Linked DNA regions of Homo sapiens: region 2 is linked to region 1. The links come from fine-mapping of genetic effects on gene expression. A gene starts in region 1. The other region holds a variant in brackets. All regions are shown on one strand. Distances are between the middles of the regions.

Region 1 (5,378 bases):
ACATTGGAAGTCAGGGTGTCAACCTAGGAATTGGGGGGAAACACAAACTTTCAGTCCTTAATGGGAATCCAAGTCAGGGGGTCATAAGTTGAGTGTCAGAAGAGAAAGATTAAGGAGGTATTATTAGTGCCGGTGGGCCAAACATGAAGTCTAGACACATTACTTAATCATTACATTCATTCATATAGTAAATATTCACCAGGTACATATATACTGAGTGCTGGGCTAGTTTCTGATGATGCAGAAATGAATGGCTTTATTGTCTTCGTCCTCAAGGCCCTCATGGTCTAGTGTAGAAGACAGACTGTAAATATTTACCATTCAGTACGATGTGTGCTGTTGCAGAGCGTGGCTTGGGCGCTATGGGGAACCAGAGGGCATGGAGCCTGGTTTGGAGGGGCAGGGAAGACTTTCTGAAATATGGGAGACAAGTCGAAGCCTATCTGACCAAGGCACCATGCAGGAGGAGGCGGGACATTCATGGCACAAGGCCAGCATGGCAGCAGTGTGAGGTGTGATGGGTGTGACCCATTCAAGGAACTGCCAGGTGCTCCATCTGAACCAACATGTCTGAGCTGGGGGCCTGGCATGAGGGTCATGCAGTCCTGTGGGTGCCAAAACAAGGTGGTTAATTTTATCCTAAAAACAATTGGCATCTACTGAGGAGTTTTATTTGGGAAGAGGTAAAATTAAATTAGAATGGGCAATGTATCTCTGGAAGCAGAGTGAAGGGGGAGCTGGAGGGGCAAGCCCAGAGGCAGGGCCAACACTGAGCTGCATGGTCCCTGCGATGGACAATCTGAGCCTGAGGTAAACGGGCTGATGTGGGACTGACGGATGCAAGGTGACAGGCTGAGGCTAGGGACCGTCATCACTCCCAGTCACACTGCAAGCTGCAGCAGGGTAGAGCCACATCTGATTTGTCCCCAGTGCCTGACCAGAGTTGGGGCTCAGTGTTTGTTGAGTGAATTCTTACTGCATGGCCAGGGTTTCTGGTCCTGGCAGCTGGGTGGATGGAGGGGTCATATTGAGAATCCTGGAGTGCAGTAGTAGCCAGGTGTGAAGAGTCAAGCAGGTCTGCAGCCTGAGGATCAGCATGGCAGCAGGAGGGTCCTCTGGGAGCTGGTCATGAATTTGATATGGACCATGGGATGGTGCCCACTTTTGTTTGTATCCTGGGGTACAGATCACAGCTCCATGAAGGTTTGAGCTAGGCAGGTGAGCCACGCTGGGAGCAAAGATGGTGGTGGCTAGGTACTTGCTTATCCCTATACCAATCAGCAGGATGTGGGTGGGGCCAGATAAGAGAATAAAAGCAGGCTGCCCGAGCCAGCATTGGCAACCCGCTCGGGTCCCCTTCCACACTGTGGAAGCTTTGTTCTTTTGCTCTTTGCAATAAATCTTGCTACTGCTCACTCTTTGGGTCCACGCTGCTTTTATGAGCTGTAACACTCACCGCGAAGATCTGCAGCTTCACTCCTGAGCCCAGCAAGACCACGAGCCCACCGGGAGGAATGAACAACTCCAGACACGCTACCTTAAGAGCTGTACCACTCACCGCGAAGGTCTGCAGCTTCACTCCTGAGCCAGCGAGACCACGAACCCACCAGAAGGAAGAAACTCCGAACACATCTGAACATCAGAAGGGACAGACTCCAGACACGCCACCTTAAGAGCTGTAACACTCACCGCGAGGGTCCACGGCTTCATTCTTGAAGTCAGTGAGACCAAGAACCCACCAATTCCGGACACAGTGCTGAGAATCATGCCTTGAAATCTAGCAGCTCTGTTAAAAACTGAGCAAGGTGTACTTCGGGGTTGTGTTGAGAAGGTTGGTGTTCAGCTAAATCAGGAGGGAAGGCCAAGGAAAATCAGGCTTGGCACCTGTCAACAGGTGGGACCCAATAGCCAAGCAAATGGTCCTGCAAACTGTACTACCCAACGTTCACAGCAAGGATTCCAACTTCTCACCAGGGCATGGAAAATTTGCCTTCATGTCAACCACCACCTTAGCCCTTGACTACCCAACGGACTCTTCCCAAGTCAACAGCCACTTCCTCCCTGGGGCTTAACAGGCATTCCTTGAAGCCTGCCCCGGGCAGTTAGTCCTTCCCTTTTGTGTGAACTCTCGGCTGTTTTCGTTGTCTGCACACAGAGCAGTGGTCTAGGGAGCGAAGGGTTTTGGAATGGACCTTTTCCTTTCTTAGCTTGCTGTAGGGATTGTGCTTCAGCTAAGTAAAGTGGAAAAACAGAAGTACAAAAGCAACAGCCCCAGATCTAAGGGCACCGTAGCTCTGGAATCTGGATTTTATTCCAGATTCAACCCTCAGCAGGGAGTTGAAGTGGTCAGCCCTGTGCTTTACAAGGCTGATTGGGCAGCACCCATAGTAGAATTGTCAATATAAAGTAATTGAAAGGATCAGAATCCAGGGTTTTCGTTGTTTTTAAGTTTTTAAGTTTTAAAAACAAAGTTGTTTTTGTTCGTTTTTAAGTTTACTTCTCTTTAATCGGTCTCACTTTATTGACCAGGCTGGTTTCGAACTCCTGGGCTTAAGTGATTTCTCCTGTCTCAGCTTCTCAAAGTGCTGGGATTACAGGCGTGAGCCGCTGCACCCAGCCCAGAATCCAGTTTTAAAGAGTTTATTCAAGCCAAAAGCTGGGAATGGCCATCTGAGAAACACAGACTCTAGGAAAATGGGGCCAGGGCCCTGAAGTTAAAAGTTAAAGTCTTGCTTACATAGGCAGAAAGCAAAGACATTTAGTAACCTTGTAGAACATTTTCTTGTATAACTTTTCTTGTTTTAACTTTCTTGTTTAACATTTTCTATGCAAGGCTGGTTTATGAGTTACAACCTATAATTAATTATAGGTTGTTCCCCTGCCTCCACCTTGTTTTCTTTTCTCTACAGCTTGTTTTCATTTCCTTTCCAATTTAAGAATGTGTTTAACATTCTATCCCAGACAATGTGATGGTCATGAAGTCTCTGTCAGAGAGGAAAGAGGGAGTTAATCTATAATGAAGATCAACAGTGAAGAGGAAAGGGGTCTTCCCTGGAACGCTTCAGTCATATACGACATTTTACACAACAATGTAAGTAAGGAAAAAGGCTAATCTATAATCAGAGAAACAAAGGTTGCAGCTGCCTGTTTACATGACTCAGGTCCCATGATCAAATTCCCTTAAGGCTCGAAATATTTTAAAGTTCCAACAGCTTAGATTTTGAATTGCTTATTTTCACAGAATGGACCTGTGTAAGGAGGTATGTGTGGGAGAAGATTCCAGAAGGTCTTGAGACACTCCAGATGAAGGTTGGTGTGGGGCTGTGCTGCTGGAGCACCAGAGAGTGAAAAGAGGCAAGCGATTTATAGTCTCATCAAATATCGACAAGTTTGGGTTTTCCTTTAGAGTTGGGCAGGGCCTGGCTGGACTTCTTTCTCCACCAGTCTCCGGGAGGCTCAAACAAGTTCTGATTTTCAGGTTCTGAAAAAGCTCTCAGGGAAAAAGCAGCTTCCATTCTGTTTTTTTTCCCTTTCTGCATTCTACTTCCCTTTTATTTTTGGCCTGGTAATTTCTGTCTTATCAGCTTTTAGATGTCCTTGAGATTTTTCTTTTCTTTCATTTTTTTTTTTTTGAGACAGGGTGTAAACCAAAAACTCTTTTATTCTTTTTTTTTTTCTTTTGAGACAGGATGTAAACCAAAAATAAAATTCTAAGCCCCGCCCTCCCTGCAACCATCTGAATGGACTTCCTCCTGGGCCAGGGTACTTTTAACCTGAAAGACTGGTTCAGGCCATGATGGAAAGTAGAGGTCAGACAGGACTCATTATACCTCTCTGATGAGAAGCATTTACAATCTATTTTCTCTGAAGCCTGCTACCCGGAGGCTTCATCTGCATGGTAAAACTTTGGTCTCCACAACCTCCTATCACAGCACAGACATTTTCTTTCTATTGAGCCCAGATCTTTAGATAAACTTAACCAATTGTCAACCAGTCAATTTTAAATCTACCTGTAACCTGGGAGCCCCCAACCTCCACCCAACAATTCAAGTTGTCCCACCTTTCTGGACAGAACCAATGTATTTCTTAAATGTATTTGATTGACATCTCATGTCTCCCTAAAATGTATAAAACCAAGCTGCACCCCGACCACCTTGGGCATAGTTCTCAGGATCTCCTGAGGGCTGTGTTACAGGCCATGGTCACTCATATTTGGCTCAGAATAAATCTCTTCAAATATTTTACAGAGCTTGACTGTTTTTATTTGTTAATGATCTCACTCTATCGTCCAGGCTGGAGTGCAGTGGTGCAATCATGGATTACTGCAGCCTCTACCTCCCTGGGCTCACATGATCCTCCCTTCTCAGCCTCCCAAGTAGCTGAGACTACACACATGCGCCACCATGCCTGGTTAATTTTAAAACTTTTTGTATAGATGGAGGTCTTACTGTGTTGCCCAGGCTGGTCTCAAACTTCTGGCCTCAAGTGATCCTACCACCACAGCCTCCCAAATTGGTGGGATTACAGGGATACGATTTTTATTTTATTTTTATAGAGATGGGGGTCACAGTATGATGCCCTGGCTGGTATTGAACTCCTGTGTTCAAGCAATACCCCTGCCTTAGCCTCTCAAAGTTCTGGGATTACAGGTGGGAGCCACCATGCCCAGCCTGGGAGAAGACTTTTAAAACATATTTTGTTTAGGCCAGTCATGGTGTTGAGGTCAGGAGTTCAAGACCAGGCTGGCCAACATGGCGAAACTGTGTCTCTACTAAAAAATATAAAAAACTTAGCCAGGCGTGGTGGCAGGTACCTGTAGTCCCAGCTACTTGGGAGGATGAGGAAGGAGAATTGCTTGAACCCAGGAGGTGGAGGTTGCAGTGAGTCAAGATCATGCCACTGCACTTCAGCCTGGGTGACAGAGTGAGACTCTGTCTCAAAAAAACAAAAGCAAATCATGTTTTGTTGAGTTTGTTTAGCTGTGTATTCACAAGTTGATTGGCATCTCTCAGCCCATCCCAACCCCACCCCGGAATGCTCTTCCCAGGCTTCCTAACAGGTATTCTCCTTTACCTGGATTGCATTTGTAGAAAACACTCTGCTTCAGTGGGAGGCAAGGAACAGAATATTTCTCTGTCTAGGGCATACTCTTCCATGTTATCTGATTCCAATTCTATGGGACCTATTTTACCATTCTGAAAGCTACAGATAACCGATAGAAATGAAAAATAATTCTTGTCTATGGATATGCAAATGCTTATATTTTGAAGAGAGACAACCCTTCCTCACTTCCCCCCAAATCCCCTAGTTTGCTTCCATTTTACACATTCATTTCAATATTTCTCTTCTCTTCCTTCTTTTCTTTTTTTTTAGGTTAT
Region 2 (5,378 bases), 26 kb after region 1:
GGCTGGAGTGCAGTGGCATGATCATGGCTCACTGCAGCCTCAACCTCCCGAACTCAAGAGATCATCCCACTTCAGCCTCCTGAGTAGCTGGGACCATGGGGCGCCTGCCATGGCATCAAGCTAATTTTTTATCTTTTGTAAAGATGGGATTTCGCCAAGTTGCCTAGGCCAATCTCAAACTCCTGGGCTCAAGCGATCCACCCACCTCAGCCTCCCAAAGTGCTGGGATTACAGGTGTGAGCCACCGTGCCCATCCTGATGGTTGCTTTCAGAGCCTTGATTCTTCATCTCTAAAACAAAGATAGGAATACTGCCTAGTTTCCATGAGGAGCTTGTAACACATGCGGGCCTCTCTCCCCTCACCCCAGTCTTTGGTTAGACACTTACTATTTGCAAAGACCCAATTTCTTCATCATAAGAAGGCTGCCACCACACTTGAGGGAGTGACCCATTTACAAACAATTGCTTCCTTCTGGGTCATTCTGATGGATTAAATGAAGAACCATTTAAAACCACAGCCCAAAGGGCCAGAGGGAGAGGCAGCAGAGGGAAGATGCAGGTGGATCTTCATGCACTGCATGAGGAAGCTTTGTACCATGGTCAGGAAAAGCTCCAGGCACACAAGGGCAGCCTCCATGGCCAATCAGAGTGCACCTCTCACCTCGGCAACTCTGCTAACCTAAATAGACCAGTCACACAGCAGAGCTGCAAAAGAAGACATGATAATTACAGAGACCCCAGGGGACCGTCTGTGCGGACTGATGCTTTGTTTCTCCTGACCCCTCAGACCTCTCTATTTCACTGCAAACTCTCAATACCCAGGGCCTTTGTTTTGCTGTGAACACTTTCATTCCTGAGTACATTTTCTATGAGGAGTTGGCGGAAGAGAGTCAGAATGAATTATATTTTCAGCACACCTCTGGGTTCATGTTGAACTCGGCTAGAACTGTTTTGACCCAGGAAACAATTTGACTAAAGGATATTTCAATCCAACAAATACTCTCTGGGCCCTTCCAATGTTTCTGGCACTGGTTTGATGCTGAGGACATAGAGATGAATAAGAAATGGTCTCTGTCCCCCAGCTGATAAATTATCATTGATGATCTACCGTGTGCCAGGGACTTTACAAATGTGATTACCATTTCTTACAACATAGTAAGGTAGATAGCATTTTTGTGTTACTGGTGAGGAGTAGGAAGTTCAAAAAGTTTATAAGGTCAAAGTCACACAACTAGTCAGATGTAGAACTAACCTTTGGATTTGGGACTGTTCACCATCAAATCCTATATGCTTTTGATACAGACAGGAGACCCAGAAATACTGGGTAGAAGAGGGTGGTTCCCTGGCAAAGGCCCTACCCTCAAACCTGGAAACCTGCAGCCCTAAATGGGAAGAGGCATTCCTGTTTTCATGCCCAAAAGTTGCCTTTTGGCCCGTCATGTCCCCTATCCTATACCTGTATAAACCCCAGACCCCAGGCTCCAGAAGCAGATGAGGAGACAAACAGAAGAGCAGAAGAATGGCAGAATGGCACAGCAGAGAGAAGAAAAGGAACATCTGAATGTTGAGAGGAATTTGGCTGGGGGCGGTTGGAGAGGAGATTAGCCACTGGACAGCCAAACTCCAGGGGAAGATCATCTTCCCACTCCATCCCCCTTCCAGCTCCCCATCCATCCTGCTGAGAGCCACCTCCACCACTCAGTGAAACCGCTGCATTCATCCTTCAAGTTTATGTGTGACCTGATTCTTCCTGGACATTGGACAAAGACCTAGGTCCAGTGAACTGTCTAACACTTAAGTCATCCACGGACAGCAAGGCTAACAGAACGCTGTAACATGTGCCCACTTGGACTCTGGGAGTTGCAGACACCCACCCATAGGTGCTGCCATGGGTCCGGAGCCCAAAAAGTGCTTGCCCTGGCTCCTGCACCTGCCCGTCTGCATGCTCCCCCTCCGGTAAGGGGTTTGAGGATGTGGCGGCTGAACATAAGAGCTATGCCCCTGTCACACATCATGGGACAGGGGTCAGGGAACTCTCCCATTTCACTTTCAAATATTCCAGGTCCCCTTTTTGTTCGGGAGCCAGAGTCTAATGGAGACAGAGATAGAAACCCTGAAATAGGATCCAGGCAATATAAACCTACACGCTGTAAGCCAAGTCAGAGTGAGGCTGATGTGATAACAAAAGTCTGAATACAAGGTGGGAGACAATTATTCTGACTGAAAGGGAGGCAAGAGTTCTGCCATAGGCTTGATGCTGTGTGCCCCTGGCTTCCTAACTCATTTGCAAATGGAAAATACTATTCCATTGTAGGAACCTTCTTTTTCCATGTGTCTGGGGAAGGAGAAAGAATGGCTGGGCTGAATGAATTTATCCCTTGGTCCTCTTCCAACAAAGCTCAGCTATGAAAGATAAATCCAGCTCTCCCCACCCCCTCTCAGTGGAGCTGGGGAGAAATCAAAAGCCCCTCTGCCAATAATGAGACCAAAGTTTGCAAGGGCAGGACGAGCCCGTGCTAACAGAGAAAGTGTTGTTTCCTCAATTTGGTTTTAGACTGTCTTGTCCTATGGGGGAGAAAAGATCTGCCCTTGGGAGAGGTGCCAACTTTATAGATCTATTAATAAAAGAACTGGCAGGCTTACAGTTCTTGCCAATGAGGAAACTTGAATGAGAGAAGCCAGGCTCAACCTTGGCCAACAGACTGGAGCCCATCACCCTAACTTCACCCCGCTTCTCCTTACCCAACCGTCAAAGGCTAGGCAGCACCCACCCAGCAGCTTCCACCTGGCTGAAGCCTGCACCTGCTTCAGACCAAGGGTTAGATGGAAATTTGGCATGGGAAGAGAGGGCTCACCTGTGGGCAGGATAGACTCTATCCAAGAAGGAGAACTGAAAAATGAAAACCTATGAGACAAGGGGTGATCCTGAAGGCAGGCAGGAGAAAGGGCTGGAGGGAGAGGCACTGGGGAATTTTTCCTGGTGAATACTGAAGTTACTAGATGTTTTGTCTTGCAAAACTCAAGGGAAAACTCTCAAACTCTAATGTTTGTCTATTCTGTGTCCAAACTGTCCTTTTGAAACGGACCCACCTTTCAGTAAAGAAACTTGCATTGGCCTGCCCA[G/T]CCTGGTGTGTTAGTTCTGTGGAAACTGACTGGCTAGGGTGGCCACGGGAGGAAGAGCCTGGTTCTCCCTCACCAGCTCCTTGTGAAGAAGGGACCTGGTCAATAAGGCAAACGACACCACTTGCCAACATTTGATATTGCCAAGTGCTTTTGTTTGGCACTACTATAGATTTTAAAAATGTATCTCACTTTTAAAATTTGCATTTTCTTGATTACTTGTGAGATTGAACATCTTCTCATACAGCAACTGGCCGTTTTCATCTCCTTTTCTGTGAATTCTAGCTGTTCCCTATTTTTCCAATGGGTTATTCGCTTTACTTACTGATCTGTAAGAGTTCATTACATATACTGGAAACTAATACTTTGCTATATATTGTTACTATCTTCTCTTACTCTGGTCACTTTTAAAACTTCATGTATTGTCATAAGAAGTCATACTTTTCGGTGGCTCATACCTGTAATCCCAGCACTTTGGGAGGCTGAGGCAGGCAGATTACCTGAGGTCGGGAGTTCGAGACCAACCTGACCAACACGGAGAAACCCTGTCTCTACTAAAAATACAAAATTAGCTGGTGTGGTGGCACGTGCCTGTATTCCCAGCTACTCAGGAGGCTGAGACAGGAGAATTGCTTGAACCCGGGAAGCGGAGGTTATGGTGAACCGAGATGGTGTCATTGCACTCCAGCCTGGGCAACAAGAACAAAACTCCATCTCAAAAAAAAAAAAAAAAAAAAAAAAAGTCATACTTTTGCTTTGTTTGTCATCTTTAAGAAGATCATCCCTATCGAAGGTCATAAACATATTCTTAATATTTTCACGTGTTTATTTTCCAAGGTTAGGTCTTAGAAAATTACAAAATAACCATTTGTAATTTCATGTTGTGAAAGGTGGAGGAAAGGAATTTCATCTTCTTGCCCCCAAACCTAAAACCCTTACTTGCATCTGAGCCGATTCTCCTTGTTCCTTTCAGTTACACTGGAAGAAGAGCCCCTCCTTCCTTCAAGCCAAGTCATCCCCTTGGGCTCTCACCACTTCAGTTTATACCTTGCCTGTAGTCCAGTCTCTCCAGCATCAATTCCATCAGCACAAAGACATAATTTAATTCCTTCTACCTTAAAAAAAAAAAAAAAAAAAAAACAGCTCTCCCTCTCTTAGGGTGAGATGAAGTGGTTGGCAACAGGCCAATGCTACTTTCAGAGGCGTTTGAATCAGAGTGACTCCATTTTGAATAGGGGTTGAGTAAAATAAGGCTGAGACCTACTGGGCTGCATTCCCATGAGCTTAGGCATTCTAAGTCACAGGATGAGACAGGAGGTCAGCACAAGATACACGTCACAAAGACCTTGCTGATAAAACAGATTGTGATAAGAAAAGCCAGTCAAAACCCACCAAAACCAAGATGGCGACAAAAGTGATCTCTGGTTGTCCTCACTGCTGATTATTCACTAATTATAAAATTAACATGATAAAAGACACTCCCACCAGCACCGTGACAGTTTACAAATGACATGGACACATCAGGAAGTTACCCTATATGTCTAAAAGGGGAGGAGCCCTCCATTCCAATTGTCCACCCCTTTCCTGGAAAACTCATGAATAATCCACCCCTTGTTTAGCATATAATCAAGAAATAACCATGAAAATAGCCAACCAGCAGCCCTCAGGGCTGCTTTGCCTATGGAGTAGCCATTCTATATTCCTTTACTTTCTTAATAAACTTGCTTTCACTTTAGCCTATGGACTTGCCCCAAATTCTTGCATGAGGTCCAAGAACCTTCTCTTGAGGTCTGGATTGGGACCCCTTTCTGGTAACACTACAGCCACGCTATGGAAAATCTAAATAAAAATAAAGATTGTATTTTCCAAACCATCGGGGAGCTATGGAAGCAACAAGGGCCAGAGGAAGTAAAATTCTGGAGAAGGGAGGACAGCTCAGAGGTGAGCATCTGCAGATGCCTTTCCCTTCCTGTCATTTGATAATCCTGGGCAAAGACTGAAATTGGTGCTGAGTCCAGTCGGGGGATGCTGTGGAGTCATCAAATTAGAGGCTTGGGGGGGCCTCAAACATCCAGCCAGCTTCCTCCTTCAGAGGTGCTGAACTGTGAAGCTGTGTGATGTGAGAGGCTGACAGGCTAAGCTGAAGACCTCAGGAAAGTAGAGTGGAATTTCCCGTGGTCTTTTTTTTTTTTTTTGAGGCAGTGTCTCTTTCTGTCACCCAGGCAGGAATGCAGTGGCAAAATCACAGCTCACTGCAG

Evidence for each region. PIP is the estimated chance that this variant, and not a neighbour inherited with it, causes the effect. A credible set is the group of variants that fine-mapping cannot tell apart.
Region 2: its variant is the best candidate, but not a certain one, in a credible set for the expression of TCL6 in whole blood (TOPMed, PIP 0.67).

The regions. Positions count from the first base shown.
Region 1 is chr14:95,649,136-95,654,513 of GRCh38, forward strand. It overlaps TCL6 (T cell leukemia/lymphoma 6), which reads left to right and starts at 2,962. Exons shown (of 8, transcript NR_028288.2): 1 at 2,962-3,091; 2 at 3,242-3,354; 3 at 5,374-5,378.
Region 2 is chr14:95,674,979-95,680,356 of GRCh38, forward strand. No RefSeq gene overlaps it. Among named protein-coding and RNA genes, the nearest start is that of TCL1B, 8.8 kb to the right of the region's middle. The variant G/T (reference allele first, on the strand shown) is at 3,124.